Linked DNA regions of Homo sapiens. The protein of the gene in region 5 purifies or fractionates together with the protein of the main gene of each other region. This does not show direct contact. Each region holds a gene or a part of one and is shown on either strand. Other genes may lie near its edges. The genes, in order: PRPF8, LARP7, LSM4, LSM8, SART3, LSM3 and RPL26L1.

What was found.
Region 1: the proteins of SART3 (region 5) and PRPF8 purify together in Homo sapiens (affinity purification with mass spectrometry; 4 studies listed by BioGRID, with this or other methods). This does not show direct contact.
Region 2: the proteins of SART3 (region 5) and LARP7 purify together in Homo sapiens (affinity purification with mass spectrometry; 5 studies listed by BioGRID and IntAct, with this or other methods). This does not show direct contact.
Region 3: the proteins of SART3 (region 5) and LSM4 purify together in Homo sapiens (affinity purification with mass spectrometry; 5 studies listed by BioGRID and IntAct, with this or other methods). This does not show direct contact.
Region 4: the proteins of SART3 (region 5) and LSM8 purify together in Homo sapiens (affinity purification with mass spectrometry; 5 studies listed by BioGRID and IntAct, with this or other methods). This does not show direct contact.
Region 6: the proteins of SART3 (region 5) and LSM3 purify together in Homo sapiens (co-immunoprecipitation; 3 studies listed by BioGRID and IntAct, with this or other methods). This does not show direct contact.
Region 7: the proteins of SART3 (region 5) and RPL26L1 purify together in Homo sapiens (affinity purification with mass spectrometry; 3 studies listed by BioGRID and IntAct, with this or other methods). This does not show direct contact.

The regions. Positions count from the first base shown.
Region 1 is NC_000017.11:1,674,868-1,678,367, reverse strand, and holds part of PRPF8 (pre-mRNA-processing-splicing factor 8), read left to right. Parts: intron 1-673; coding exon 674-803; intron 804-1,195; coding exon 1,196-1,392; intron 1,393-1,656; coding exon 1,657-1,863; intron 1,864-1,997; coding exon 1,998-2,161; intron 2,162-2,313; coding exon 2,314-2,440; intron 2,441-2,555; coding exon 2,556-2,748; intron 2,749-3,028; coding exon 3,029-3,216; intron 3,217-3,500. UniProt on the Homo sapiens protein: Plays a role in pre-mRNA splicing as core component of precatalytic, catalytic and postcatalytic spliceosomal complexes, both of the predominant U2-type spliceosome and the minor U12-type spliceosome.
Region 2 is NC_000004.12:112,654,143-112,658,086, forward strand, and holds the end of LARP7 (la-related protein 7), read left to right. Parts: coding exon 1-17; intron 18-3,104; coding exon 3,105-3,185; 3' UTR 3,186-3,444; downstream 3,445-3,944. UniProt on the Homo sapiens protein: RNA-binding protein that specifically binds distinct small nuclear RNA (snRNAs) and regulates their processing and function.
Region 3 is NC_000019.10:18,309,577-18,313,076, reverse strand, and holds part of LSM4 (U6 snRNA-associated Sm-like protein LSm4), read left to right. Parts: intron 1-374; coding exon 375-473; intron 474-3,215; coding exon 3,216-3,399; intron 3,400-3,500. UniProt on the Homo sapiens protein: Plays a role in pre-mRNA splicing as component of the U4/U6-U5 tri-snRNP complex that is involved in spliceosome assembly, and as component of the precatalytic spliceosome (spliceosome B complex).
Region 4 is NC_000007.14:118,187,164-118,190,663, forward strand, and holds part of LSM8 (LSM8 homolog, U6 small nuclear RNA associated), read left to right. Parts: intron 1-1,114; coding exon 1,115-1,242; intron 1,243-3,500. UniProt on the Homo sapiens protein: Plays a role in pre-mRNA splicing as component of the U4/U6-U5 tri-snRNP complex that is involved in spliceosome assembly, and as component of the precatalytic spliceosome (spliceosome B complex).
Region 5 is NC_000012.12:108,554,674-108,558,173, reverse strand, and holds part of SART3 (spliceosome associated factor 3, U4/U6 recycling protein), read left to right. Parts: intron 1-3,500. UniProt on the Homo sapiens protein: U6 snRNP-binding protein that functions as a recycling factor of the splicing machinery. Promotes the initial reassembly of U4 and U6 snRNPs following their ejection from the spliceosome during its maturation.
Region 6 is NC_000003.12:14,181,817-14,185,316, reverse strand, and holds part of LSM3 (U6 snRNA-associated Sm-like protein LSm3), read right to left. Parts: intron 1,381-3,500; coding exon 1,285-1,380; intron 1-1,284. UniProt on the Homo sapiens protein: Plays a role in pre-mRNA splicing as component of the U4/U6-U5 tri-snRNP complex that is involved in spliceosome assembly, and as component of the precatalytic spliceosome (spliceosome B complex).
Region 7 is NC_000005.10:172,962,424-172,965,923, forward strand, and holds part of RPL26L1 (ribosomal protein uL24-like), read left to right. Parts: intron 1-3,500.

The DNA.
Region 1 (3,500 bases), on a different chromosome or scaffold from region 5:
GGGATTACAGGTGCCCGCCACCACGCCTGGCAATTTTTTTTTTGTTTTGTTTTGAAACTGAGTCTTTCTCTGTTGCCCCAGCTGGAGTACAATGGCACGATCTTGGCTCACCACAGCCTCCGCCTCCCGGGTTGAAGTGATTCTCCTGCTTCAGCCTCCCAAGTAGCTGGGACTACAGGCGCGCACCACCATGCCTGGCTAGTTTTTGAAATTTTAGTAGAGATGGGGTTTCACTGTATTGGCCAGGCTGGTCTTGAACTCCTGACCTCAGGTGATCCACACTCCTCGGCCTCCCAAAGTACTGGGATTACCAGCGTGAGTCACCGTGCCCAGCCTCACTGGACTTAACTTTCTCAGATCTTTTTTCATGTATACATTTAGACAGGGCTCTTTCCAGGGACCTATTTGGAGAGCAGCTATGACTGTGTCCTTACTGCTCCTTTAAATTCACATGGGCGATCTTAGTTCCTGGTTTTTGCCTTAAGGTTTCTCATTTACCCTTTTGTTTTAGATGTTGAGGTCCCAGAGTTTTTTTTTCTTTTTACCCCTCTACTGCCATACCTACATTCCTCTGTATGTATATTATACATATATGCCCCACCTCTGCCCAGGTTTCTATTGTTGTTTAAATGCATTGCTAACTTGTATTCTTAACTTCTGCTTGGGATCGTAGGGCCCTGTAGGGAAGGGTCCTGGCTGTGGCTTCTGGGCTGCCGGTTGGCGAGTCTGGCTCTTTTTCATGCGTGGCATTACCCCTTTATTAGAGCGATGGCTTGGCAACCTCCTGGCCCGGCAGTTTGAAGGTGAGTGGTTTTCTCTGTGTCCAACTTCTCCTGTTATTGCTTCAAAAGTACCTGCCCCTGTTTGAGTCTGTTCCCTGCTCTTGTATGAGCACTCTTCCTACTGGATTGCCTTTAGGTCCAGTTCTGAAATGAGTCTGACCTAGTATTCTATTTCTTGGGCTTCCTTCTGGGGCCTTGAGAGGCAGTCATGCATTTGCAGGAGTGGAAATTCCTCAGAAGCATAGTTGTGAATGTTTAAGGTAGCTCGTCTTTTTGCATATGCTGGGCACAGGGACGCTTTGTTAATACCTAATTTTATTAATAACCATAATGAGTGAGGAGCATGAAGGTAGAGACCCTTATTGAAAGCAAGGAATCTTCCTTGTAATCCCCTTGGGACACTCTACTTCCAGGTCGACACTCAAAGGGGGTGGCAAAGACAGTAACAAAGCAGCGAGTGGAGTCACATTTTGACCTTGAGCTGCGGGCAGCTGTGATGCATGATATTCTGGACATGATGCCTGAGGGGATCAAGCAGAACAAGGCCCGGACAATCCTGCAGCACCTCAGTGAAGCCTGGCGCTGCTGGAAAGCCAACATTCCCTGGAAGGTGGGTGTCTCTTTATTTCCTTGGAGGCGTAAACATCCGTCTTTAGGGTAGGATTACCACTTCGGGAATCATTAGGGGGCTATCTGGCTCCAATCTCTTTTCTTTTCCCTTTTAGACAGGGAAAAGAAGCACCATGTTGCTTAGGCTGGCCTCAAGCTCCTGAGCTCAAGCGATCCTCCTTAGCCTCCTGAGTAGCCGGGACTACAGATGTGTGCCACAGTGCCTGGCTGGATCCTGGCTTGATTGTGCTTTTTGGACTTTTAGGTCCCTGGGCTGCCGACGCCCATAGAGAATATGATCCTTCGATACGTGAAGGCCAAGGCTGACTGGTGGACCAACACTGCCCACTACAACCGAGAACGGATCCGCCGAGGGGCCACTGTGGACAAGACTGTTTGTAAAAAGAATCTGGGCCGCCTCACCCGGCTCTATCTGAAGGCAGAACAGGAGCGGCAGCACAACTACCTGAAGGTTGGGCAGAGTAGGCTGGGCTGGGTGTGAGTGGTGGGGGAGTGGGCAAGAGGGAGGACTGTAGAGTTGTGACTGAACCTTGTTCTGGCAGGATCGGGCTGTAGCGGGAGGCTAATTTCATGTCCACCTTACAGGACGGGCCTTACATCACAGCGGAGGAAGCAGTGGCAGTATATACCACCACAGTGCATTGGTTGGAAAGCCGCAGGTTTTCACCCATCCCATTCCCCCCACTCTCCTATAAGCATGACACCAAGTTGCTCATCTTGGCATTGGAGCGGCTCAAGGAAGCTTATAGGTGAGTAGTAGGGTAGATAGGTTCCTGCTGGGAAGGTGACAGCAGGGAATGGCGTCATCCTCAGAGTCCAAAGAAAGAAGGTGTAGCCCCAGTCTTTCCTGGTTTTACTTCCTCCTAGTTTTCCCATTCACCCTTCCCATTGCTTTTGTCAGTGTGAAGTCTCGGTTGAACCAGTCTCAGAGGGAGGAGCTAGGTCTGATCGAGCAGGCCTACGATAACCCCCACGAGGCGCTGTCCCGCATCAAGCGTCACCTCCTCACACAGAGAGCCTTCAAAGAGGTGAGTGAGGCCTCCCAAGTTTTCTTTTTGGTTCTACCAAAGGTAGCAGTTGCCTTTGGTTCTACCAAAGGTAGCAGTTGGTGGATTGGTGTGAACCAGCCTCCTTGTCCCACAGGTGGGCATTGAGTTCATGGATCTGTATAGCCACCTCGTTCCAGTATATGATGTTGAGCCCCTGGAGAAGATAACTGATGCTTACCTGGACCAGTACCTGTGGTATGAAGCCGACAAGCGCCGCCTGTTCCCACCCTGGATTAAGCCTGCAGACACAGAACCACCTCCGCTGCTTGTTTACAAGTGGTGTCAAGGTAGAACTTTCATGAGATCGCCCTGTGAGGAACGGGGCAGGAATTTAGTTCTACGTCAAAAATCTCATCTGGGTAGCATGATTGGTTTACTCTCTTGATGCGTGGTAGTAAAGGGAAGTAGTGTTCGTGTTAAACTGAGGAAAAGCCCATAGTCAAAGCAATCCAAATGAATACGTGGAATCATAGTGGGATTGGTTATGGAAGGTAATGATAGTTCCTGTGGGGCTAGTCTTGCAAGAGGATTTCTAACCTGCTGGAGACCTGCCTTGCTACTCCTCAGGCATCAATAACCTGCAGGACGTGTGGGAGACGAGTGAAGGCGAGTGCAATGTCATGCTGGAATCCCGCTTTGAGAAGATGTATGAGAAGATCGACTTGACTCTGCTCAACAGGCTGCTGCGCCTCATCGTGGACCACAACATAGCCGACTACATGACAGCCAAGAACAACGTCGTCATCAACTATAAGGTGCGTCTCAGGCGCAGTAGCATGGAATTGTGTGTGGAGTGCTTGTCTGGCCCACTGACTCAGAATTTGCTGAGGAGGAGGCTGGGTGCGGTGGCTCATGCCTGTAATCCCAGCACTTTGGGAGGCTGAGGCGGGCAGATCACGAGGTCAGGAGTTCGAGACCAGTCTGGCCAACATGGTGAAACCCCGTCTCTACTTAAAAAAATACAAAAATTAGTTGGGTGTGGTGGTGGGCGCCTGTAATCCCAGCTACTTGGGAGGCTGAGGCAGGAGAATCACTTGAA
Region 2 (3,944 bases), on a different chromosome or scaffold from region 5:
AAAGAGGCACTGAAAAGGTAATTGATTCATTTTTGTTTTTTTAGACTAAACTTTCCTTGAACGTTTAATGCCAAAGTCAGTACTAGGTAGTCATAAAATGATCGTAGTTTTGCTATTACCTAACAAAAATTTACTGAGTATATACTATGTTTTAGGTTGGGAGGGAAAAGTCATTTCTCTAGATTTCAAAATGTATGAAATTGAATTATTTTTCTCACAAGGATACATAATTTTAATTTAGATTTTTTCTTTTTAACCAGTGATATACTTTAACAGTCTTGATATCTGGCTGCTATGTCTTGTAGTTTGGTGATAAATGATTATAGAAAGATTATCTTCATGGTAAAAACACAATGTATTCAGAATGTAGTTTATAAAGATAGGAGGCTCCATAGATAAGATGGAGAGACTTTATGCATAGTGTTTCCTATAGCAACGATAAGCTTTATTCCTCTTTCTCTAAGATAGTAGGTAATACAAACAAGCTTAAATAATTTAAAGCAAGCCCCTCTTTCAGTAATTTTATTTTTCTGTCACTTAAAATGATACTGGTCTGATCAGTAGTGGAATCACACCTGGGAATAGCCACTGCTTTCCAGCTTAGGCAACATAGCAAGACCCTGTCTCTTAAAGTTTTAAAACAAATTATTATACATGTAAAGGTTAGTACATTTTAAAAGTGCCTGGAACAAAGTAGGGTACATAATACCTAATATTAACTACAGTCATCAAAATTTAGAAATGCATATTATAAAAGTGTAAGAAAAATGAAAAAGATGAACTTCCTTTTTTGTTAGGTGAGCAAGTTAAAAGTCCTATTTCCTGTAATCTAAGCTTGTTGATTTGGGGTCATATTTATACAAAAAAAAAAAAAAACTAACTTAAAAAGCAAGTGTTTTTCATCAACCTTCTTCTACCATTGCCCAGAATTTATCGTGATTTGTGGGGAGGTGTGAATTTTGTTTCCTTGAAAGGAGACTGAACTTGCTGTGGTGGGGAAGCCTCCTGTGCTTCCCAAGGATTCTTTCAGGGATATGAGGTGTTAATTTCAAAGCCAGTTTGAGATTATTCAAATGTTAAAATCACTAATCCAGAACTGGTAACTGAAGTGAAGTCACTTTGTTAAATAATACCCTTCTAATTGGTGTGAAATTTCATTTAGATTTTATATATTTTTAAAACTAGGAATAAACCTTTTATTTTTCATTTTAAAAATTTAGAGCTCATCTTTGACTAGGAAGTTCTTAAATTGAGTTGGAACACAACTCAGTTATGACGTCAGGATTGTCGTTAACGCAATTTGTTAAGTAGCTATGGAAGTAGCCAGTTGACTCTTGTCGTGAAATGAAACGGAGGTTAACACAGAAAGTAAGTGCTGTGCAAAGCTTGTTGGAAAAAAGGAGTAGACCATAATTAGTTTAGCCAACTTGTTTGCTAGTTAATTCAGCTAATGATTTTTGAGTGCCTTGTGTTAGGCACCATTCTTGGAACCTGGGGTAAAGCCATGAATCACAAAGTCCCCTACTTTCATGAAGCTAACAGATAAACAATATAGTTTAGGTGATGACCAGTGCTAGACAGAAAAATAAAGTGTATTGCAGGAGAGCATTGTAACAGCTGAGGTTGTCTGGAAAACTCTCTGCAAAGGTTATGTTACAGCCAAGACCCATAAGGAAGTGAGCGAGTAAGCCCCAGTAAAGTTTAGAAGTATAGCTTTTCAGGCAGAAGCAAAGAAAATGCAGAGACCGGAAGGGAAGACTGTCAGGGACTAGAAGACCAGTGTAGTTGGAGTACTAGGAGCATCTTAGTAAGTAATGGAAATTGCTTAGAAAAAAAACTAGTAGAACATCAGTGAATCTGCCAAAAGGTTACATAAATACCTTACTGACCTGACAGCCCAATATTTCTACAATAGTGTTGTATTTGGCCCATAATTGAGTAAAAGTAAAAAAATTCTGGCTCTTAATATTCACATTATGGGGCCAGGCACGGTGGCTCATGCCTATAATCCCAGCACTTTAGGAGGCTGAGGCTGGTGGATCACTTGAGGTCAGGAGTTGGAGACCAGCCCGGCCAACATATTGAAACCCTGTCTACTAAAAATACAAAAATTAGCCAGCTGGCACGCACATGTAATCCCAGCTACTGGGGAGGCTGAGGCAAGAGAATTGCCTGAACCTAGGAAGTGGAGGTTGCAGTGAGCCAAGATGGCGCCACTGCACCACAGCCTGGGCAACAGAGCAAGACTCTGTCTCAAAAAAACGAAACTAAAATAATATATTAAACACAAGTAAATTAAATTAGTGATGTATCACAAAAGATCAAGAAGATGAAGGAAAGGTCTGCCAAAAGGGATGTCTCCTATTCATTTTGCTAGCCTAAATCTTTGTAGTATGCCCTATGATTTTGAACACATTGGTAAAAATAGATAACAGCTACTAGAGACAGAATGAAGCTTATTTCTCTTTGGCTTTTAAAACATTTGAATTCTTTTCTGTAAAAATTACTGATACTCAGCAGGTAAAGGCAGAATTTATAAAATTTGTGAACAGCAGCATGGGTATGATAGAGTTCTAAACATCTTTGGATTTTAATTCACCTCAATGATGAATAATAGGCTTTTAGTTTAATCTAAAAGTGAATTCCTTCCAATTGCCATATGGTACCAAACACTTTAAAACTATTTAAATGAATACTCATTAGAATCTATATTTTTTAGAGAAAAAGATTTGCATTTACTCCAAAGTTTAATATTTTAACTTTTTTTTCTCAAGGAAGCTTTTGGAATATTTTAGACATTTTAAACAGTTTTCTTTTTTATTCTGTGTAATTTCATTTGCCTTCCTTAAAAATATTCAACAATTTATGTAAGGGTGTAAGAAATAGGAAATAGTAAATAGCCTTAATAACAGATTTGATTTGTAATTGATTTGACCTGAGCATAATTATCTCATTTGTCATCTTCTCGCTGTTTTTAAAAAATTTCCATTTAAGCTGATAGCTGTGAAATTTTTTCTAGTCATAGTTTTGTGTGTGTGTGTGTGTGTGTGTGTGTGTGTTTTGAGTATCCAATACATTTTAATTTTTGATTTATTTCTCTTTAGTTAATCACCAAAGCTGAAAAGATTAGACTGGCAAAGACTCAACAAGCGAGTAAACATATAAGATTTTCTGAATATGATTGAAAAAAAAAACAGTTCACCTCTTAATACTTCACAAGATACTTGAGCTGTTCTTGGGAGATTCACTTTTATTATGGTAGCACTGCATAATTAATGTGTTTTTAATTAAAAGAAATATCTTTGTTCCTCAACTTGTAAATAAGACTTTTTTCTAGAGACAAATATGATGTATACCACAATTTTTCTTAAACATTTTATTTGTTGAAATTATCTTAGATGTCAGTGTCAGGTGATTTAGTAAATAAATGTGTTTTGAACATTATTTGGAAATGTGTTGATTTTGTTTTTATACTGTAAAAACAAAACATAATTGCAAAAATACTACATGAATATATATAAAGTTTAGAGAAATGTTTAACACTAAACTCTCACTGTACTTAGTTTGTAACTTGCAATACCTTCAATACCTTTTCATGTTGATTTATACAGACATGTTTAATAGTTCATTCTATTCATTCCACTTTGCCTATCTGAGCTTCCATTGAACAATAGACCATAGGGATTGGTTCTAATTAAAATGTTAAATTTTTAAAAGAATTGAGTTTCTTCATAAATCAAGTTAAATGTTTTGTTTTGGTTAGACAAAATAAAATGTATTAGGTGCTATTAGCACAAGAAGGAAAAAATAGAGGAATCAACCTTAGGCAGAACTGAGCTCTGTTATTTTATTCAGGAAAATCATGGGAGTGAAGCATTTAAAGCCTTCCCAGAATTGAACTTAACTGGGTCCATACAGGACTGTCATCTTAATCTCTTATCAAA
Region 3 (3,500 bases), on a different chromosome or scaffold from region 5:
CAGCTAATTTTTATGATTTTAGTAGAGATGGGGTTTCACCATGTTGGTCAGGATGGTCTCAATCTTTTGACCTCGTGATCTGCCTGCCTCGGCCTCCCAAAGTGCTGGGATTACAGGCGTGAGCCACCGCGCCCGGCCCAGTATCATTTTTTAATTGCACAAAGGTTGGCGTCATGATAGACTGTCTAACTGCCAGCGAAGTGTCTAGCGGAGGCAGAGCCTGTCGCCTGTAAGGAAGGCCATTTAGGGGTCTGGGAACTGTGGGCTGAGGCCCGGAGGTGGTGGTCCATCTCAGGGCAGAGCTACACCTCCTGAGGGGCCCATGGCGCAGGGCTCCAGGGCTACAGCCAACCTCTAGCCTGTCTCTCTTCTAGTTGGTGGAGCTGAAAAATGGGGAGACGTACAATGGACACCTGGTGAGCTGCGACAACTGGATGAACATTAACCTGCGAGAAGTCATCTGCACGTCCAGGGTGGGTGCTGCACCCACCAACGGGGGTGGGATGCAGGGGGTGCACACTCAGCCTCCTCCCTCCCTCCCTGGGCCTCATGGGAGGAGTCAGTGGGGGAGGCCGCCTAGGACTGCTCGTCCTTCCAGGGGTCAGTCAGGAGGGACAGGGCAGGGTGAGCTAGGCCACCAAGTCTCCCAGTGTGCCCTGGACTTTGACCCTGTGGGAGACTTTCCTGCTGTGTGTCTGTTGGTGCCACCCCTGACCTGGAAGGACCTAGGACTGGGGACTCCCTGTGGCTCAGGCTGGGGCAGCCCCCTCCAGGGGAGGCCCAAGACTCCCGGACTCTGCTGCCTTTAGTCCAGCCTGGATGTTGCCTGCACTCTGCGGGCCATGGTAGTGTGGCCCTGGGATGTCCGGGATGCCCAGGTCACGGTGGGCAGGAGCAGCGCCAGGGCCCGGTGGGTCAGGAGCCACCAGCCAGAGCCCAAGACCGGAAGTGCCTGGCTAGGAGTGCTGCTGGGTCGGCCGGGGCTGGAAGATGGTTCCCCTGGTGTCACGGGCCTTCCCTGCCCCTGGGATGACCCACAGAGCACTGAGGAGGAGGCCAGGGATGGTGCTGAAGGCAGCGGCTCCCTTGGACTCCTCCCACCAACCTTCCCTGACCCCATCTGTCTTGTCTCCCTGTGGGTGACAGCCCCCCATGGTATAGGGAGGAAACTGCTGGGGAGCTTGGAGTGCCTGCCTGGGGTCACCTTGACAGGACAACAGGGCTCGAGGGGGGAGGCGCTTCTTCCTGAAGTGGCCGTATCTTGCCCTGACCGCCACCCCCACCCGGGACTGGGCCTCTCATCAGCACAGGGCTGGGCGGGGTGGGGACAGGTGGTGAGGCTGCTGTGCAGCAGCGCTAGAAGCTCTAGAAACTGCTTGCTGGGTTTCGTGCCATAGCCTGTCGGAGGGCGTCTGGGTGGGTCCAGTCTGGCTGTGTCGGATGGTGCCTTGGTGCAGAACCGCGTGCCTCCCATCTGCGGCCAGCGGGGCTCTGTCCACTTCCGGTATTGGAATCACCAGGCGTGTTGCGTGCGTGAGCATGTGCGGTCTTGTGGACACCTCCAGGTCCTAGACATGAGAAGCCTGTTGATTCAGAGGCTGCGTGGTCTCCAGGGGTTGGTTTGGCCTCTGCCTCCAGCTTCGAGTGGACGGATGGCTTTCCCTGAGCAGCCTGCCTCTGTGGCCAGGCGGTGATGCTGCCGTCACATGTGGCTGGGAGGAGAGGCGATGGGAACTCACATCGTCCCCATCTAAGTGGGGCCCTCCCTCCCTCAGAGGCAGGCCGCAGGATGCAGAGACCCCGGGCTGAGAGACCTCTGGAGCGCTGTGGGCAGGAGGCAGGGGCCTCCCTGCAGTGAGCTCAGGCCCTGCCCAGGTTCCTGCACGAGGAAGCCTCTGGGCCCTGCCTGGGAGAGCTGGGCGCCAAGTCACCTGCCCAGGCCCTGAGTCCCCACAGAACCATGGTGTGTCCGCCCCACGAGCCCTCGAGGGGTTCCTGGGAGAGTGAGCACCCAAAGGGGCTGTTCCTCCCCGCCCAGCGCTAGGCCAGGCCACACCTACCCAGGTGTGGAGGAGAGTGTCTGACAGGAGGACTTGGGGATTCGGGCAGGTAAGGCCTTTTGGGGTCAAAGTTAGCCAGATGAGAAGTGGGAAAACCACGTGCAAAGTTCTGGGGGCAAGCCCATGGCGTGTGTTCCGGAAACAGAAAGTTCCATCTGGAGGGAGTGTCGTCGGGCTGGGAGAGGACCGCCAGGGCGGGGCAGGATCTCGGGCCCTAGAGAGCCCTGCTGAGGTTCTTAGACCTTGCCCCCAGGCTGGAGGGGGCCCTGGGTGGGTTCCAAGCTGGAACATACTGTGATCTGACTTTAAAGGGCATCGGGGGCAAAGGCCATCCAGGCGTCGTGCGTGGGTCTGTCCAGGAACCTGGGCGGTGGGGCGGGGCTGGGAAACTGATATGGTAGGAATGGCCCTGGCCCCTGCTAATCCCTCGATCTGTCCCAGTGGGGGCCTCGGAGGCATTGCAGCATGAGTCTGTGTCTTTGCAAGGCCCCCATTTCTCCAGTCTTGGTTAGCTCTCCTAAAACTGGCATCGCTGGGAGCCGCCCTTGAGCCACCCTGGCAGGACCCAAGTCCCCCCATTTCCCGCCCCTCTTCACCCACCACACTAGGCCTGTAGCTTGCTCGCATGTCCCTGCACCCAGCGCAGGCCCTGTCAGGAGATACTTAGATGAATGAATGAGTCAGGGCATGTAGAGAGGCTTCCAGAAGTGAGGTGGGGCTGGGGCAGGAGGAGGAGTAGCTGGGCTTCGGCTGTGTCTGGTGCACAGGGAGGCCCCCACCCGCTCTGGGCTTTGGGCTGCAGGTGAAGAACCCCAACCAGAGAGAGCCCCATCCCAGGCTGGAGGGAGCCCCAGTCAGCCACTCCTGAGCCAGGCCCACGGGCAGAGGATAGGAGCCAGTCTTCCTTGTGAGTGCACAATGGGGGCTGCGCCTACCACACCCACCCTTGCTCCTGGGTGAAGGATTGCCTGGGGTCAGGACAGATCCTGCCTGCAGGGTGGACCCTTTGCCACGTATGTCCCGGGACTGATACTGTGCAGCTTGCAGGGGTGGTACGGGGTGCAGGCTGGGCAGGATCTGCAGGGCCTCCCGCGCTCCCAGGGCTGGGCCAGACGGCCCGGTGGTAAGTTAATAACCTGCTCCCCTTCTCCGCAGGACGGGGACAAGTTCTGGCGGATGCCCGAGTGCTACATCCGCGGCAGCACCATCAAGTACCTGCGCATCCCCGACGAGATCATCGACATGGTCAAGGAGGAGGTGGTGGCCAAGGGCCGCGGCCGCGGAGGCCTGCAGCAGCAGAAGCAGCAGAAAGGCCGCGGCATGGGCGGCGCTGGCCGAGGTGGGTCTCCCCTCTCCAGTGGACGTACCTGGGGCGGGAAGACAGCCACACGTGGCATCCCTCCTTCTTGGGGTTGCCCTTGCAGCGCTGCCTCGGAGCCT
Region 4 (3,500 bases), on a different chromosome or scaffold from region 5:
AGTTACAGATTTCATTCTCATTTTATTTCATTCTCTTTTTTATTTCATTCTCATTTTATATATTTTGACTTTCAGAAGATAAAACAGTTTAAGAACTTGAGAGGTTTAACCATCAAAACCAATGTTAGTTGATATTTCTTCAGAAACTTGAATACCATGTGAGTTACTCTGTTATGCTAGACCCATGTCTTCTTTTATTCAATACTAAGCTTTCATAAAACTCTCCCTGATTATTTCCTTCAAGTTCTGGTTTTAATTAGTATAGTCACATTTGTATCTACCTTACTGGGAGAATTAAACAATAAATCCATATGATACACATTAAACAATACATGTGAGACACACAGAACACTGGTAACTAGTATGTACTCATTAGGTGTTACATGTAACTACTAGTTAAATTTTTAGTATATTTATGGGACTGATTTGAATCTGAAAAATGGCAAATTATATTTACTTGTGTATAATAGTATAGAATGTTATGGTTTAGTGGTCTGGCTCAGGAGCTAGCCTTTTGTGGTTCATCTCCTGGCTCTGCCACTTACTACCCATGTGATCATAAGACACACCATTCTGTGCCTCAGTTTCTTCTTTGAAATGGGGCTAATTATAGTACTAAATCAAAGGGTAGAGATGAGTTGAGAAAATGTGTACAGTGTGTTTAGCACACTGCCTAGTGCTGGCATATAGCATATAGTGATACTATTACATTGCTGTAGTTGGTATGTATGGTTCTTCCTTATTTATGTATATTTGGCTATCATTTTCCCTTAAATATCCTTTGTCTTAGTTTATACCTTTAGCTGCTGGTCTACATAAGCTTTTATGCTACTTACTTGGAGATAGTCACATTAGTACATAGGTGTCCTTTGCAACTGCTGTCAACTCTACATATGAGTGAGATGTGTGGTGCAGGTCCCCCCACCCCAGCCAAATAACCAAGAGGTAAATTGTGTACCCTCGAATACTGTTGGTTATAAAAAAGGCATTTTATTTGCCGTCGTATAGGTACTTGTATTGGAATACCTGGCAACTAAAATGACTGTGAGGTTAAATTTACACTTTCAGGTAAACCAGAATATTTCTCTTTTTCTCCTGAATATTTTCTTTACAGGGAACACTGAAAGGTTTTGACCAGACCATTAATTTGATTTTGGATGAAAGCCATGAACGAGTATTCAGCTCTTCACAGGGGGTAGAACAAGTGGTACTAGGATTATACATTGTAAGAGGTGACAACGTGTAAGTAAAATATATCTGTTAAAATTATAAATGATACTGCCTTACTTTATGGAGAAGAGGCTTTCCCCAAAATACCCTACTGTATTGTCCATACATAGTTAATAGAATCTTGCATTCATTTCTTTCGTAAATATACCTTTTCTTATGTTTGTGTAAAATAAGGCATATGTATACATTTTATGTCAGCACTTCTTTAGGTTTCAACCAAAGCTGTCTCTCTACAAATTAAACTTTTACCTGAGATTTGCCCATTTTTCTACTAGTTAAGTAGCCTGGGTAGAGTCCAGAAAGGGCTCTGCCTTATATTAAATACTTCATTAGAGAGACTTCTTAAAACGTTCTTTCAAATACCCAGAATTTTAGAGGAACATATTTCTAGAGTCCAAGGCCAAAGTTTGAAAAATGTTTTGAAATCTCTGATTTGAACAATATTAATTCATGCTCAATAACATAGGTGTATTTATAAATAAGTACTTACTCGTTATTCATTTTCTTTTAATTTTTTAGTATCATTGACACACTTAAGATGTCCCTGTGGCCTCAGTTTACTTGGGACAGACAGATATAAAAGTTCAAGAGTAATTGGCCAGGCATGGTGCCTGTAATCCCAGCACTTTGGGAGTCTGAGGCAAGTGGATCAGGTCAGGAGTTCAAGACCGGCCTCGCCAACATGGCAAAACACTGTCTCTACTAAAAATACAAAAATTAGCCAGGCTTGGTGGCGTGCGCCTGTAGTTCCAGCTACTTGGGAGGCTGAGGTGGGAGAATCACTTGAACCCAGGAGGTAGAGGTTGCAGTGAGCCGAGATCACCCTACTGCACTCCAGCCTGGGTGACAGATTGAGACACCAATTCAAAAAAAAAAAGGCCGGGCACAGTGGTTCAAGCATGTAATCCCAGCACTTTGGGAGGTGGAGGCGGGTGGATCACTTGAGGTCAGGAGTTCGAGACCAACTTGGCCAATGTGGTGAAACCGCGTCTTTACTAAAAATATAAAAATTAGCCAGGCGTGGTGGCGCAAGCCTGTAATCCCAGCTACTCGGGAGGCTGAGTCAGGAGAATTCGCCTGGGAGGTGGAAGTTGCAGTGAGCCGAGATCGCAGCACTGCATTCCAGCCTGGGCAACAAGAGCAAAACTCCGTGTCAAAAAATAAAAAAGAAAAGTGGCTAATGTGGTTCACGTGCCGTGGCTCATGCCTATAATCTCAGCACTTTGAGAGGCCAAGGTGGGTGGATCACCTGAGCCCAGGAGTTCAAGACCAGCCTGGCCAGCATAGTGAAACCCCGTCTCTCCTTAAAATAGAAAAATTAGCCTGGTGTGGTGGTGCATGCCTGTAATCCCAGCTACTTGGGAGGCTGAGGCAGAAGAATTTCTTGAACCTGGTAGATGGAGGTTGCAGTGAGCCAAGGTTGCGCCTTTGCACTCCAGCCTGGGCAAAAAGAGTGAAACTCCATCTTGAAAAAAAAAAGAAAAGTGGCTGATGTGACAGAGGAACTGAATTTTAAATTTTATTTAATTGTAATTAATTTTAATAGTTACATGTGGCCAGTATTAGTATAGTTATAGAGGCTAGAAGAATGCCAAATCAGTTTTCTAGTGAGTACTACACTGAATCAAAATATAGTTGGAAAGAAGCAAAAGATACATTAGCAATTTTAAGCTAGAACATTTAACAAATTCTAGGGGACTAACTGTCCCCTGGAATAACTTAAAAAGTGCAGGAATAATTTACTCATTTAAGTTGTTTATGTTAGCATCACCTTTAGATGAATAAATAATTTGATCTGTAATCAAAAATCAAGAGTTTATAAAATATTTTAGAGATGACTTTTAGGTGGAGTTACAAGGTGAGCTGTAAGTAATGAGAGAGAGACAGAGCAGATAGGGCCCAGGTCTCTGGATCAGAACAACACTGTTTATATTGGAGCTGTGCATAGTAATTGATTTTAAGGTTTCTCCTACTTAAAACAATTTTTTTTTCTTGAACTTCAGTGAAAAAAGTCTTGTGCTAGAGCCAGCTTCTACTGGCCCATGAAAGCATATTGTTATATTTTAAGGAATTTTACAAGCTGGTTAATTGATGTCTTGTTAGTAGCTTGAAATTGGCCGTGGTGGGAGTGTTTGCACAATGGATATTAGTAAATGCAGCAAATCAGTCTCCCGCTTTTTTTCCAGAGAGCTGGTTTTTAAAAATGTATCAGCATTTCCCTGCTTACCATAGGGATTTTAAATGATACTGAATATTATCATTTAAAATTT
Region 5 (3,500 bases):
TTTTTTTTTTTGAGAGCATCTCACTCTTGCCCATGCTGGAGTAGTGGTGTGATCATGGCTCACTGCAGCTAGGACCTCCCAGGCTCAAGTGATCCTCCCAGCTCATCCTCCAAAGTATCTCGGACTACAGGCATGCACCCCCATGCCTGGCTAATTAAAAATATTTTTTTTTTGTAGAGATGGGTTCTTACTATGTTGCCCAGGCAGGTGCTGAATTCCTGAGCTGAAGTGATGCTCCTGCCTCAGCCTCCCAAAGTGCTCGGATCACAGGCGCAAGCTACTGCACGTGGCCTTGATTATATTTTATGGTAGCTGGCAGTTTGCTGTGGTATCTGTCTAACAAAAGCAAATATTTTCCATTATATGTGTTTGTGCGCTGAAATTAAAAGTGGCACTTCATGGTGGCTTCGGCAGATTTGTCAGTGCAGCAGTACGGAGACTATGGCTTTGCAACCCTGAACCCAAGCCTTCCATTGAGTAGTGGAAAGGCCTTGTACAAGTTATTTCAGCTCGCAGAGTCTTGGGTGTCCCAGTTAGTAAAATGAAGGTTGTAATAGTGCTTTCCTCATGGGACTGTTGTGGGGCATGGCACAATGTGCGTAAAGCGCCTGGCACAGTTTGGCGCATAATAGGTGCTGCTCCATTCTCCCTTCCCTGCCTTTGATTGCACCAGTTGTTTTCTTTCCATCAGTCCTCTCTATTATTTCTCCCCCATTCTAGTACAGCTAGGTATAACACATTTTTCACATTGCTAGGGAGTTAAATCAGTTAGCAGATCATTTTGTGATTGGTTAAGTTTCCTTTAAAGCATCTATGTTGTTAATCCCAGCTACTCGGGAGGCTGAGGCAGGAGAATCGCCTGAACCCGGGAGGCAGAGGTTGCAGTGAACTGAGATCACACCACTGCACTCCAGCCTGGGTGACAGAGCAAGATTCCACCTCAAAAAAAAAAAAAAAAAAAAAAAAACTATGTCATTAATGATGTTCTAAGACCAGAATAGACCAGCATATGTACTCATTTATCAGTATAGATTGAACTATGTGGAAATAGCTCTTTTAAGTGCATTTCAGTATGTATTTAATATATGTACTTTCAGAGTACTTGTCCACATATAGTATCTTCATCATTTTACCCTAAAAATCAGAAGTTTACACCAAAAGCCACACCTTAAAAGTCAGCTTCTTGACTTTAGCGACTTTTATACCTTTTTCTTCTGCTGATCCACACATGGTGTTCATGTGAGGGGCACTTGCATGCATAGATATTCGTGACACTGACTAGCAAGTGCTCTCCCACTCCTGTTTGTGCTCCGCAAGCACACTCTATTGAGTTCAGACTGGTGATGTGGTGGGGAGAGCCTTGAATGTTCTTTAATGAAGAAAGTGTATCCTTCTCAAACTTCACTTCTCAAACATCCCAAACTGCGGTTACTTTGTGTGACACACTTGATAGGTGATTTTGAAACATCAGTGTGTCATGATAGCCCATTTAAGAACCAGAGCTTTAGCCCAGCTCTTTCATGGTACAGATGAGGAAACAGAACAAGTGGGGATTAGAACACTTGTGTCCTGATCTGGTCCAGTGCTTTTCAGCCTATCGTGTGATCATCGGATGAGTTCAGCTTCTCAGGTTTTATGAATCATAAGCAGGAGAACATTGCTAAAAGTCTTAAGATTTAAAACTTAGAGATCATGTTCTTATCTGTAATTGATTATTATCTTTTGGCATGTAATTTGATAAATACAAAGCAGTTCACATCATGTACAAGAGTTTCTCACCAGATGCAGTGGCTCACACCTGTAGTCCTAGCATTTTGGGAGGCTGAGGCAGGATGATCCCTTGAGCCCAGGAGTTTGAGACCAGACTGGGCAAGATGGTGAGACCCTGTGTTTACAAAAAATAAATTTAAAACATTTAGCTATGTGTGGTGGCATGAGCTTGTAGTAGCAGCTACTCAAGAGGCTGAGGCGGGAGGATCACTTGAGCCTGGGAATTTGAGGCTGCAGTGATTTGTGACTGCCACGGCACTCCAGCCTGGGTAAGAGTGAGACCCTGACTCAAAAAAAAAAAAAGAGAGTTTCTCAAAGTCACTGTTTTTCAACCTGGGGGTCATAGTCATAGGTTGTGAATTTATTTTAGCTGAAACAGCAAGTGCCACCTGAGCCATAGTGTTTTTCAACTGCATGGGTCTGTTTTGGGCTCTCTCTTCAGTTTGTCTATCCTGTGCCAATTCCACTGATTAACTTATTGCTAAGGCTTGCTATCTGGTAAGACAAATCCTCCTACCTGCTTTTTTTCTTTCCTTGCAGGGTGTTTTGGCTCTTTCATATAAATTTTAGAATTATTTTGTCAAGGTCTGTGAAAAACCCTGTTGGTTTTTTTATTTGAATTGCATTGAATTTATGGATTATTTAGGGGAGAATTGACGTCTTTGCCATAATGATTATTCTAACCCAGAACATGCATATAACTCCATTCGTCTAGGTATTGAATATTCTTTCTATTTTTGAGACATGGTCCTGCTCTGTTTCCCAGGCTGGAGTACAGTGGCATGATCTCAGCACACTGCAACCTCCGCCTGCTGGGCTGAAGCGATCCTTTCACCTCAGCCTTTCGAGTAGCTGGGACCACAGGCATGTGCCACCAGACTCAGCTAATTTTTACAGTTTTTGTAGAGACGGGGTTTTGCCCTGTTGCCCAGGCTGGTCTTGAATTCCTGGACTCAAGTGATCTGCCTGCCTCGGCCTCCCACAGTGCTGGGATTACAGGTGTGAGCCACCGCCCCCGGCCAAGTCTTTAATATCTTTCAATCAAGTTTAAAAACATTTTGCCATAGAGGTCTCACACATCTTTTGTTAGATGTATTTCTAGGTACTTTATAGTGCTTGATGTTTATGCTATCCTATTTAAAATTACATTTTAAAGCTTGCTGGTTTATAGAAATGTAATTTTTTTATTGTAAAAAACATATAACGTAAACTTTGCTATCTTATTCTTAAGTGTATGGTTCAGTAGTGTTAAGTATAGTCACATTGTTGTGAAGCAGATCTCCAAAGTTTTCATTTGCATATATACAACTCTACCAATTAAACAGCTCTCCTTCTCCTTCCTTCCCAATCCCCTGATAACTACCATTGTAGTTTTCTGTCTCTATGAATTTGACTAGATACTTCATATAAGTGGAATCATACAGTATTTGTCTCTTTGTATATAATTGATTTTTATACATTGCTCTTATTGCTTGTCACTTTGCTAATCTTGTTTATTATTTCCAAATGATTTGTTTGTAGATGAGTTTTGGTTTACTATACATTGATATCATCTGACCATAATTAACAGTTCTCATTCTTTTCTCTATATCTGTTTCTTTTCCTTGTCTCATTGTTAAAACCCCAGACCTCCAGTACAGGGTTAAATAGAAGGCAATACTGGGAAGTTTTTTGTGTTTTTTAAAAGGAATTTTAATGTATTATTAAATTTACTAAATATAAATATATAA
Region 6 (3,500 bases), on a different chromosome or scaffold from region 5:
ACAGTAGCACGATCTCAGCTTACCGCAACCTCTACCTCCCAGGTTCAAGTGATTCTCCTGCCTCAGCCTCCCGAGTAGCTGGGATTGCCAGTGCCTGCCGCCACGGCCGGCTAATATTTTGTATTTTTAGTAGAGACAGGGTTTTGCCATGTTGGCCAGGGTGGTCTCGAACTCCTGACCTCAGGTGATCCACCCGCTTTGGCCTCCCAAAGTGGTGGGATTGCAGGCATGAGCCACTGCACCCAGCCTTTTTTTTTTTGAGACAGCGTTTCACTCTTGTTGACAAGGCTGGAGGGCAATGGCACAATCTCAGCTCACTGCAACCTCCGCCTCCAAGATTCAAGCAGTTCTCCTGCCTCAGCCTCCCAAGTAGCTGGGATTATAGATATATGCCACCACACCCAGCTAATTTTTTGTATTTTTAGCAGAGACAGGGCTTCACCATATTGGTCAGGCTGGTCTCGAACTCCTGACCTCAGGTGATCCACCTGCCTCAGCCTCCCAAAGTGCTAGGATTACAGGTGTGAGCCACCATGCCTGGCCAGGTTTTTTTTTTTTTTGAGACGGAGTCTCGCTCTGTCGCCCAGGCTGGAGTGCAGTGGCGGGATCTCGGCTCACTGCAAGCTCCGCCTCCCGGGTTCACGCCATTCTCCTGCCTCAGCCTCCCAAGTAGCTGGGACTACAGGCGCCCGCCACTACGCCCGGCTAATTTTTTGTATTTTTAGTAGAGACGGGGTTTCACCGTTTTTTTAGCCGGGATGGTCTCGATCTCCTGACCTCGTGATCCGCCCGCCTCGGCCTCCCAAAGTGCTGGGATTACAGGCGTGAGCCACCGCGCCCGGCCCAGGTTTTTTTAATGAATAAATATTTAAAAAATTTTTCAGTTTCAGTTTCTAATAAATTAAGTATTAATAGATCAAATCCACAGAAAACGAAAGAACACTGTCCACTATTACTGTTACACACTATTATACATAGCCACCTTGCATTGTTGTATCTCACTGAATCTGGGAACCCTATGAGGTAAGTGGTAGTATTCCTGCTCACCAATGAGAACTCAGCTAACTTAATTCCCTTGCCCAAGGTAGCCCAAGTAGGAAGTGGTCAAGCCAGTACTGGCAACAGGGTCTGTCAGATGCCAGAACCCTTGCTTTTAATTGCTATGCTCTACTGAGTCCATAAGTAGGTGTCAAAACATGACAGGCTTCCCATAAATATGGGTTAAGCTGTTCGAGAGAGAACAGCTGATATTTGCAAAGCAATGAATAGAATTGCATGACTTACTTTATATATCTCTTCATATGTTTCTTCATCAATTTCTATAGTAGTCACAGTTTCTTCCACATCTCCCAAGATCATATTTAAATGTTGATCATAAGCCTAAAGTGGGAGGGTACAGAACCAAGAAATTTAATAATCAAATTACAAAAATGATAAAGGCTTAACAATATGCAAATTGCTCAATTACAACTAGGGCATTTGATACTTACATCACAAACTTTTACATGCAAATAAAAAGTAATCCTACAGTACTAATATACTGTTTCTTCACAAGTCACTTCCAATGATTACTTAATTGACCTGATAAAAATATAAAACTGCTTATATTGCCAAAAATAAATTTACTTCAAATCACTTGAAATTATTTTTAAAGTCTCCACCCCACTTGTTATCTAAGGCAGTCACATCATTTATAATATTTAATTATGAAAAACAGCAGATTCATCTTCATCATTTATCAGTAGACATCCTTCAATTTCACCTATAACAATCTGACAAGAAAAATACAGTAAAGAAGATAAAATCCTTTGTTTACTGGTAAGATAATGCCATTGCAGTCTTCTAAAGGCACACAGTAGACCACATGTCGCAGAGAGAAAGTAAGTAGAGCAACACCCTGCCCATTTCTAACCTATCCAGAACTTAAATGTGTTTAGTACCTGTGGGCTCAATCAATAAATGTTACAGCTAAGATATTCAATCCAAGCTCCAAAGTTCATTCATTTTACTAAAAGGTGCACTTTCTGGGACCTTGTTCAGAACTCAAGTTTACTTCTAACAACGTGTTACATGGTTCACCTGCTCACATCAAAATAAAAGTCACTTGTCAGCCATGTGGGGAACTGCTAAGCAGGGCACACTAACAAGATCAAACATGTATAGCTGAGAGGCACAAAACAAACAGAAAGTTGGGGCCATTTAGGATAGAGACCATCAAGTTTACACAGGGAACTGAAGAAGCCTCCAAGAGCCACAAACTTAAGTAATTAAACTCAATTCCATTTGTATTCCCAAAGTTACCACCATTCCTTTCCTGGAGTCTCTCTTCCTTTAAGGCCAGCTGTAGATTGTCTCCCTGGGTCCCTATTTCCTTTCCAAGCCCAGAGGTTCTTTATCTTTAGGTTTTGTGGAAGGCGGAACCACAGTACTTAAGAGTGGGGCTCAGGTCAGACAACCTAGATTCAAATTCTGGCTCTCCCTTTACCGTCAAGTGACTGTACCTTTCTGAGCCTGAGCTTCCTACACTGCAAAGCAGGAATAATTAGTATGTATCATCATAGGGTTGTTATAAAGATTAAATGAGATATCACACACAAAATGCTTAGAATAATAGTACCTGGTCTATAATTAATGCTCAATAAATGTTAGCTATTTTTAATCACTTTAGGGTAGAGTAGCAATACTAAAAACAACACACTTAGGAAAGTAACAAGTCATTAAGGAGAGGCAAAACCTTCAGGGTTCTCTATGAACAAATGGGATTATTTCAAGGGACCAATTCTACAGATATTTTGCAGATATGCACAAAGAAATATGTAAAAAAATGCTTACTGCAAGTATTTACGTATTTGTAGCAAGAAATGAAAAAAAATCGATCACTATCATATACAGAATCCTAGGTAGTCATTAAAAAGAATAAACGAAAATTAAATGCACTCATGATCAATTTCCAAGAAAGATTAAGTGAAAAAAAAAAAAGGTACTGAAAAACATGTATGGCAAGATCCATGTTTTGTAGAGGTAGGGTGTACATAATGCAAGTATGTGCACATGTACATATATGAGTGTATATGTGTAAACATACAGAAAAGGTAACCCAATTTTTAAATTTTATTTTTTGTAGAGACAGGGTCTCTCTATGTTGCCCAGGCTGGCAACACAGAGAACTCCTGGCCTCAAGTGATCCTCCTGCCCCAGTCTCCCAAAGTGCTGAGATTACAGGAATGAGCCACTGCACCTGGCCAAGATAATCCCATTTTTAGTAGTGATTACCAGTAGAAGAAATGGGATTTCACTTTTTACTCTATATATTTTTGTGCTGTTTAACTTTTCCTAATAAAACACATATTTGTGTTTTAAATTTAAAAAACATTTACGAATGGAGGACAAGTAAATATTATTTACAAATAAACAGAAGGGAAAAATGAAGGGAATAAAAATGTTCTATAATAAACGTATTTCTATTAAAAGAAAAAATGTTAAAAATGTGAATACATGCC
Region 7 (3,500 bases), on a different chromosome or scaffold from region 5:
CTTGAACCCGGGAGGCGGAGGTTGCAATGAACCGAGATTGTGCCATTGCACTCCAGCCTGGGTGACAGAGTGAGACTCTGTCTCAAAAACAACAACAACAACAACAAAAAACGGCCAGGCACAGTGGCTCACGCCTGTAATCCCAGCACTTTGGGAGGCTGTGGCAGGCAGATCATGAGGTCAGGAGATTGAGACCATCCTGGCTAACACGGTGAAACCCATCTCTACTAAAAATATAAAAAATTAGCTGAGCGTGGTGGTGGGCGCCTGTAGTCCCAACTACTTGGGAGGCTGAGGCAGGAGAATGGCGTGAACCCGGGAGGGGGAGCTTCCAATGAGCCAAGATCATGCCACTGCACTCCAGCCTGGGTGACAGAGTGAGGCTCTGTCTCAAAAAAAAAAAAAAAAAAAAAAAATCCTTTGGCAGTTTTATATCTGCCAAAACTGACCTGTACATTTTACTGTATGTAAATGATGCCTCAGTTAAAAATAAAATGATTTCAAATTGTGTTCATTGCTATGAAGAAAATATAAAGGATGCTATGATATTGATTAAAGGACCTGGGAAGGCTTCTCTGAGGAACTAATACATTTAAGAGAAGACCTGAGAAATGAGGAGTTAGCCAGGTGCTTACCAATGGTGCCTGATGTGCTTATAAAATCTAAAATCATGGCCAGGCGCGGTGGCTCACGCCTGTAATCCCGACACTTTGGGAGGCTGAGGTGGGTGGATCACCTGAGGTCAGGAGTTCGAGACCAGCCTGGCCAACATGGTGAAACCCCACCTCTACTAGAAATACAAAAATTAGGTGTGGTGGCACACACCTGTAATCCCAAGTACTCGGGAGGCTGAGGCAGGGGAATCGCTTTAACCTAGGAGGTAGAGGTTGCAGTGAGCCAAGATTGCGCCACTGCACTCCAGCCTGGGCAACAGAGTAAAACTCGGTCTCAAAAAAAAAAAAAAAAATCTAAAATCATTGACTGCAAGGCCCTCTATGGGCCAATCCTGGTCTACTTCTCCATCCTCATCTCCTCCTAACCCCCATGTGCTCTACACTTTAACCACACTGGGCTTCTGGGGTCTTTAAATACACCTTGATCTTTTCTCCCGCTGGAATGTTCTCTCTGCCTGGAGTGCTCTTCCTTCTCTCCTTTACATAGGTAACTCCTCATTCTTCGGGTCCTACCTTAAATGTCCGTTCCTCAGAGAAGCCTTCCCAGATCCTTTAACCAATATTATAGCCTAGCATTCTTTATTTTTTCTTCGTAGCAGTAAGCACAATTTGAAATCATTTTATTTTTAACTGAGGCATAATTTACACACAGTAAAATGCACAGGTCAGTTTTGGCAAATGTAAAACCAAATAGCCATTACCCTAATTATGATTAGACCATTAAAAAGACCATTTTTAATCATCCCAGTAAGTTCCTATGTGACTTATTCCAGTTAGTGGTCATGTATTTGTCTATGTACTCATTAACTGCTTACTGGCCATCAGGCTAAGCTCCATGAAACCAGAGAGTTCATCTTGTTTGTTGTCTGACCTCAGTGCAGAGCCTGACACTTAGAGAGGAGAAGGGTCAGTCAATATTTGTTGAATGAATGAAAAAAATTTTTTGAGTAGGTAAGATGTAGAAGGTGAGACAGAGAAGGAGGGCAAAGAGGGAGAAGGAGCTGCTGTTAAATATATATATATTTTAAATTAGAGACATTTATTTATTTATTTATTTATTTAAAAATAGGTATTGCTTTGCTGCCCAGGCTGGTCTCAAACTCCTGGCTTCAAGCAATCCTTCTGCCTTGGCCTCCCAAAGTGCTGGGATTACAGGCATGAGCCACAGTGTCTGGCCTGTTGCCTTTTTTTTTTTTTTTTTTTTTGAGACAGAGTTTCACTCTTGTTGCCCAGGCTGGAGTGCAGTGGCACAATCTCGGCTCACTGCAACCTCTGCCTCCCGGGTTCAAGCCATTCTCCTCCCTCAGCCTCCCAAGTAGCTGAGATTACAGGCACACACCACCATGCCTGGCTAATTTTCATATTTTTAATAGAGACGGGGTTTTACCATGTTGGTCAGTCTGGTCTCGAACTCCTGACCTCAGGTGATCCACCCGCCTCAGCCTCCCCAAGTGCTGGGATTACAGGCGTGAGCCACCACGCCCGGCTGCCTGTTGCCATTTTTTGAATGCCTAAGAGGTATGAATTGTTTCAGCCAAAGGCCATGCTGGCTGAACACTTCTCCACCAGGAGAATAAAATAGCCCTGATTGGGTTTGTTAATATTGCCTCCTCTCACGGGATCTTCTGAATCTCACTTACCTTCCTCTTTCTCTGAGTAGGTGATGGTTCCTCCTACTTTACAGAGAAAATTGAAGTTATCAGCCAGGAACTTTCAGAAATCGTGGCTCCACACCTACACGTTTACCTGTAGTTCCACCCCTCTTATTTTCTTTCCCTTCTGTTACAATGAAAGAAATATCCCAGGCCTGGTGCAGTGGCTCACGCCTGTAATCTCAACACTCTGAGAGGCCAAGACAGGTGGATCGCTTGAGGCCAGGAGTTCGAGACCAGCCTGGCCAACATGGCGAAATTCCGTCTGCACTAAAAATATAAAGATTAGCTGGGCGTGATGGCACATGCCTGTAATCCCAGCTACAAGGGAGGCTGAGGCAATGAGATATCACTTGAACCCAGAAGGCGGAGGTTGTGGTGAGCCAAGATCACGCCACTGCACTCCAGCATGGGTAACACAGCAAGTCTCTGTCTCAAAAAAAAAAGAAAGAAATATCCCTGTTTCTGCCTAAGCCTAATCCATCTGCCACTGGGTGCTGCTCCATTCTTCTCTTGGAGCTTTTTTGGTCCCTTATCTTCTTTCTCTGTAGTTTCTTTTACCGTCTTCCTCCATACTTGTTCCTTCCATCAGCATTTAAACACAATCATGTTTTCCCTTCTTTAAAAATAAAAAATAAAGGAAAGTTCCCTTAGCTTTCCATCCCCCTCAAACATCTATCCCCTTCTCATCTTCAGAGCCAAGCTCCTTTGGACTGTCTTTTCTCACCTTCACCTTCTCACCTGGTACACTCATCACTTTACTGTTAATGGCCTCCATCCCAGCACTCAGTGAAGGCATTCCAGCCACAGCCACTGTTGATGACCTTGTTGTCAGATCTGTTAAATACCTTATCCTCTGTGTTCTTGACAGTCCCACAGAATTTGACATTCTCTTGGCTGCTGTAACACCACACTTGCATGATTTCCCATTCGCTCTGGCCACATTAATCTCTCACAAGCTCTTCCAAAATGCTGGCTTTTCTCACATGTGTACATTCTGCCCTTTTCTCATACCATCACTCCTTGAGCAACATGAAGCTCCTAATTGCCTCTCTGTGGATGACTCCCACGTCTCTATTGCTGGCCCAGTTGGCATTCCAGCTGTGTCTGAATTCTCTGTTAGAATGTCCCCAGATGCTTCAAATTTAGCATGTTCCAAACTAAACTATTTCCT